2 separate regions of the Homo sapiens genome follow, and region 2 is linked to region 1. The links come from fine-mapping of genetic effects on gene expression. Tissue or cell type: whole blood. Region 1 holds a variant in brackets; the other region holds the start of a gene. All regions are shown on one strand. Distances are between the middles of the regions.

Region 1 (2,683 bases):
GGTCTCAAATTCCTGACCTCAAGTGATCTGCCTGCCTCAGCCTCCCAAATTGCTGGGATTACAGGTGTGAGCCACCATGCCCAGCCGAGTGACGCATGTACAAAGTTGACCATGTATTTACAGATACGTCTGGCACAGAGTAGGAGTTGAGGACATTCTTTAGACCCAGCAAGACTTGTCTTGGTAACTAATTGGGTGTGCTGGCAAAGCACAGGAGGAGCCAGGAGGGCTTTTAACCAGCTTCCTTCATCTGGGGGACGATCAACTCACCTGGGCTACTCGGGTTTCCTGGTTTTCTGTCTATGTTTGCAGACTGCCCCTCTGTCCTCAGGGAGTTCCCAGACTTGGGGACAGACTTCTGAGCAGGAATACAGAGGTGAGAGAGGGCAGGAGGGGACAGAGCCCGTCTGGGCCTAGAATGGGGCTCTGTGCTCAATAAGAGGCGCAAAAGGTATGAATTATCAACAAGAAGGGGTTCCATGGGGGGCATAGTTAGGAGTCTCAGGGTTTGGACAGAGGAGAGGAGAGGGATGGGTCCTGCTGCCACCCTGGTTTTTCCCTGAGGCATCTGTACAGAAGCAGAGGTCTGGTAGTAGCCCATGAGGTGCAGCGACAGCTCAGCTGCAGATATATATTGTAAAGGAATAGAGGTGCCTTTCTGGCATGAGTCTTGGCTGAGGGTGTGGGTAGGATTTAATAAGGGTGGAGGTAAGGGGTTTGGGGGCGCTGGAGGCTGGTGGTTGGGCGGGCCCCACGCAGGGTGTTGGTCCCTTGAAGCCACAGCTGTCAGCTTGTGGCTTCCCATCCTGCTAGCTCAGCAGGTCCCACAGGTTGGCAGGTGACTCACCCCTCACCCTCAAATGGTCCTTGCTCTGAAAGGGGTAGGAGGGATGCAGAATATAGCACCTGTGTGTTCACCTATATGGGCGCAATGCTGTGTTACACACCTGGGTCCAAGATGTGTACCCGTGTCTGACTGAGCATACATAGGGAGTCCCCAGGCACACAGCCCCCTAGACTGTGTGCCACAGGTGCGAAGGGGGCATGTGGCATGGGCGGAGGTAGTGTGGATGAACACACAGCACTTCCCAGAGCACACGCACATGTGACAGGTGTCTTCCTGAAAAGAAGGATTGCAGCTTCAGAGCCTGT[C/G]GAGCCATAAGAAGCGGAGGTCTGAGAGGTGGGAAGGGCTCTCTAATGACAGCTCATCTTCCCCAAGAAGGACTTGGCTGGATCAGCTGGCAGAGCTGGGCACCCTAAGCCTGTGGTGACGGCAGCAGCTTCCCTAACCTTATCCCTAAGCTCCCGGCTGCAGGCCAGGGTGGTTCCACTGTCCTAACCCTGAGACGGCATTTACACCCCACAGGCCACACAGGCAGGCTGGGAGCAGTGAGTGGCAGGTGGGCACTCAGTCATTGCTTTCTCTTACCCCCTCTGCAGGCAGGAGGGACGTGAGGGTCCTGGCTGCGTCTGGTCTGAGGGGCTGTGGGGTGAGCACGTCAGCCCCAGGTTGCGCATGCCCCTGGTTTGTGTGGCACTGTATGCACACTCCACAACTTGGTGTGTTGGCCCCTGCCCCGGCACCTGGGGCCTGGTGCTGCCTTCCCATCACACTCCATGATCTGAGAGATGCTTGAAGAGGGCCAAAGAGTCTGGACTAGGAGCCAGGAAGCTCTCACTTGGTGACTTTGGAGATGTCCCTTTACCATGTCTGGGGCTCAATTTGTAGAGGGGCAATAATCCCTGTGGGGTCACCTTGCCAGGCTGCTGGGTAACAGATTCTCATGGAGGCGCACGGAAAGTCAGGAAAGCTCGGTCCTGGAGGCTTCCTATGGGGGATGGTGGTGTCCCCTGTGTTGCTCGGTTGAAGGACTAGGGGCTGAAATCAGATCGCAGCCTCCAGGGAACTTGCACTGCCCCACAGAGGGGTTCAGACCTCCTGGAGATGTGAGGCATTAGAGTTCTGGGGCTGAGCTTCCAAATAAACTTCAAAACAGTGATGTGACAGGCCAAGACCTGCTCTCAGTGAGGCTGGAAAAATCCTTCCACCCATCCCTGCCCATGGGCCCCGACCCTGCTGCTGGAGTGAGCTGCCATGAACTCCAGCCTGAGCCCGGGAACCAGCTCAGATCTTACCCTGTCTCTCATTTGCCTCCGTCCCCACCCCCAGCCTGCTGCCTCTCAGGTTCACACTTCCTGGGCTCAGAGTTTCATCCTGAGGCTGTTGGCTCAGCCAGAGCAAACAGAGACAGCACTAAAGTCAACAAAACCAGAGAGCAAGCAGCGCAGGTGACGTGGAAAAGAAAACTTGGAAGCCACAACAAAGGCATGTGGGCTGGGCCGGGTGGAGCCCTTGAGGGGACTGGAGTTGGGGACGCACGGGTGACACCTCCAGTGGACTCAGGCTAAAGGAGTCAGCTTCGGCTGCCAGCAGGGGGTGCTAGAGCCAGTCTCATGGGTGCTGAAAACAGGATGAGGTTGGGAGTCTGGGGGTTAAGGTTCCACCTTACCCAAACCCATCTCACTGAGGCTCTTGGCTGGGTTGCCTCAGCTGCTGTGAAAGGAGTGAGAGGCTCAACTAGGGGCCAGGGTTGTGGGTAGGGGCGTGCAGGGCGGGAGTAGACAGGCTGGAACAGGAGAAAGGAGGAGCTCCCGGCTCACTGCCCCACCCCAGGTGCTTCCC
Region 2 (2,683 bases), 31 kb before region 1:
CCTTGTTATTAAAAGCAGCATAGAGGGCAAGGTTGCACTTCGGGAGGCCGAGGTGGGAGGATCGTTTAAAGCCAGGAGTTTGAGACTAACCTGGGCAACATAGCAAGACCTCATTTTTACAACAGATTTTTAAAAATTAGCTGAGTGTCATGGTGGCACATAGTCCCTATAGTCCCATCCATTCTGGAGGCTGAGGTGGGAGGATCACTTGGGCCCAGGAGTTCGAGGCTACAGTGAGCTGTGATTGCACCACAGCCTGGGTGATGGAGCAAGACCCTACTCTTTAAAAAGAGAGAGAGGGCAAGGTTGTCCCATGATCCCCCTCAGATAGGGCTGACTCCCCCATAATTAAGTTTGCTTAAAGAGGCAGACTTGCTGGGCTCAGTGGCTCACGCCTGTAATCCCAGCACTTTGGGAGGCTGAGGCGGGTGGATAACTTGTGGTCAGGAGTTCGAAATCAGCCTGGTCAACATGGTGAATCCCCATCTCCACTAAAAAAACAAAAATTAGCTGGGCATGGTGGTGTGCACCTGTAATCCCAGCTAATCGGGAGGCTGAAGCAGGAGAATCACTTGAACCTGGGAGGTGGAGGTTGCAGGGAGCCGAGATCACGCCATTGCACTCCACCTAGGCGACAGAGAGAGACTCCGTCTAAAAAAAAAAAAGAGACAGACTCTTCCTTGGCTGGGGGTAAGTCAGATGGGAGAGGAGAGGGTTAAAAACAGCTGGGACTCAGCCTGCTGGCAAACATGTGGCATGTGGCATGTCGGGGCAACTGCAGCTCAGCCTCTGGAGCCATGTGAGCAATGCACGCAGGTACACGTGTGACAAGCTAGGTCACCTAGCCATGTTCAACAGGCATGTGCACAGCCACGAGGAATGCCCAGCCGTACAATTAGGCACACAGGACATCCGCCATGTGTAGACACAGCTGTGGACATAGCTGGCCAGGACATGCGACACACGACGTGCTCATAGCACAGGGAGAAGGGCCCATGAAGTCTGGTTGGAACTCAGCACGTGTGTCTGTGTGCCCACCTGAGTCTGGACTGCTGCCCCTCTGACACTAGCTGTCCCCTTGAAGGGTCGGTGCCTTATCTGTCCTGACAGAAGAGACAGTGTTGCTTCTCACTTGGGGCTCGCAGCCTCCTCCTCCTGCCTCGAACTGAGGATCTGTTGGGTCCAGTCATCCTGGAGAGATGCGGCCAGTTTCTTTCTGACAGGTCTCCTCCTGCCCGCAAGGAAGTGGGGTGATCACAGGGCGCAGGTGGTCTCTATGACAGCTGCATCCTCTCCAGCCATGGCCCTGAACCCTGCCTATAATCCCACCATTGGCTCTCAGATCTGCCTAAGCCTCTCAGCCCCCTTGACGTCCCCTCCCTTAAGCGCCCTCCGAAGGCCACCCGTCCCTCAAAGCTCCTCACACTCCATGCCCGCAGCTCCCTCCACCCGGCGTCCGCACCAGCCTCCCAGCCGAGGTGGGGCGGGGGCGAGGGGGCGCGCACTCCTCGGCGCTCCGGGACTGCAGGGCGGGGCTGCAGGGCGGGCGGGGCCCGTGTCTCCAGCGCTCCTATAAAGGGAGCCACCAGCGCTGGAGGCCGCTGCTCGCTGCGCCACCGCCTCCCGCCACCCCTGCCCGCCCGACAGCGCCGCCGCCTGCCCCGCCATGGGTCGACAGAAGGAGCTGGTGTCCCGCTGCGGGGAGATGCTCCACATCCGCTACCGGCTGCTCCGACAGGCGCTGGCCGAGTGCCTGGGGACCCTCATCCTGGTGGTGAGTGGAGGGAGCCGGGGAAGCCCTTCTCTCTCCAGCCCTTGCACTCCCCAAACTCTCACTTCCCCGAAGGGGCTGTGTTTTCCAAGGTAGCCTGGACCCACCTCCCCAGCTGTGACCCCCACGCTTAACCGCGGAGGATCAAGCTGACTTCCAAAGTCCTCTTCCCCACGGTTCTAACCCCCTCTCTGACAGCTCCGACTCTTGCCAGAATGACAGCTGTTACTCCCCAGTGATAGTGCCGATCGTTTACCCTCCCACAAGTGACTCAGCCAACAGGCTGGGGGCAGCGGTCACGCTTGCAGTCTGGGACAGCCAGCCACTTCCCCTGCCTCCCACACCCCTCCAGATTCCCAGAATCCCAGCCCCCAGATGTAGGGGAGGGGGCGGAGGCAAATGAGCCATTATTAGGTTATTTGGGTCCTGGGTGTCTGGCCTCTAATGAATAATTAAGCCTCAAAAAGTCCAAAGGTTGAAGTGAGTGAGGACAGTTTGCACGAGTGGGGGCAGAGGGTGCAGGCCACATGGGCTGCGAACAGCGAAGTGGGAAGGGAGGCAGATTCTGACGGTAGAAGGGTGGGAGGAAGCTAGGCCCAGGCACAGAGGACGCGTGTCTAAAGTTGCTCACCTGGTGCTCAGCGACTCCCAGGCCCTGTCTGTTATCCAGACAGATGCTGTCAGCGTCTGTGCAGAAGACGACAAGCATTCTGGTTACTCCCTGGCCTCTTGGTTACTCTGTGGGTTCTCTGAGTGAGCATTTCCCTGCCTGAGTTACTCCTCAGTCCTAGTTACTCCTTGGTCACACCAGTTTCACCCTGGTTTTGTTCTGAGTGACTCTGTTTGCACTTCTTAGGTCTGGCAGACCCACCAGTTATGTTCTATTTCCTGTCCCAGTTACTCTGATTTTTC

The links. PIP is the estimated chance that this variant, and not a neighbour inherited with it, causes the effect.
Region 2: it holds the start of AQP3, and the variant in region 1 is fine-mapped to the expression of AQP3 in whole blood (TOPMed, PIP above 0.99).

What each region holds. Positions count from the first base shown.
Region 1 is chr9:33,415,343-33,418,025 of GRCh38, reverse strand. No RefSeq gene overlaps it. Among named protein-coding and RNA genes, the nearest start is that of AQP7, 14 kb to the right of the region's middle. RefSeq lists an enhancer at 2,390-2,683. The variant C/G (reference allele first, on the strand shown) is at 1,153.
Region 2 is chr9:33,446,514-33,449,196 of GRCh38, reverse strand. It overlaps AQP3 (aquaporin 3 (Gill blood group)), which reads left to right and starts at 1,604. Exons shown (of 6, transcript NM_004925.5): 1 at 1,604-1,774. The coding sequence starts at 1,667. RefSeq lists a silencer at 1,429-1,618.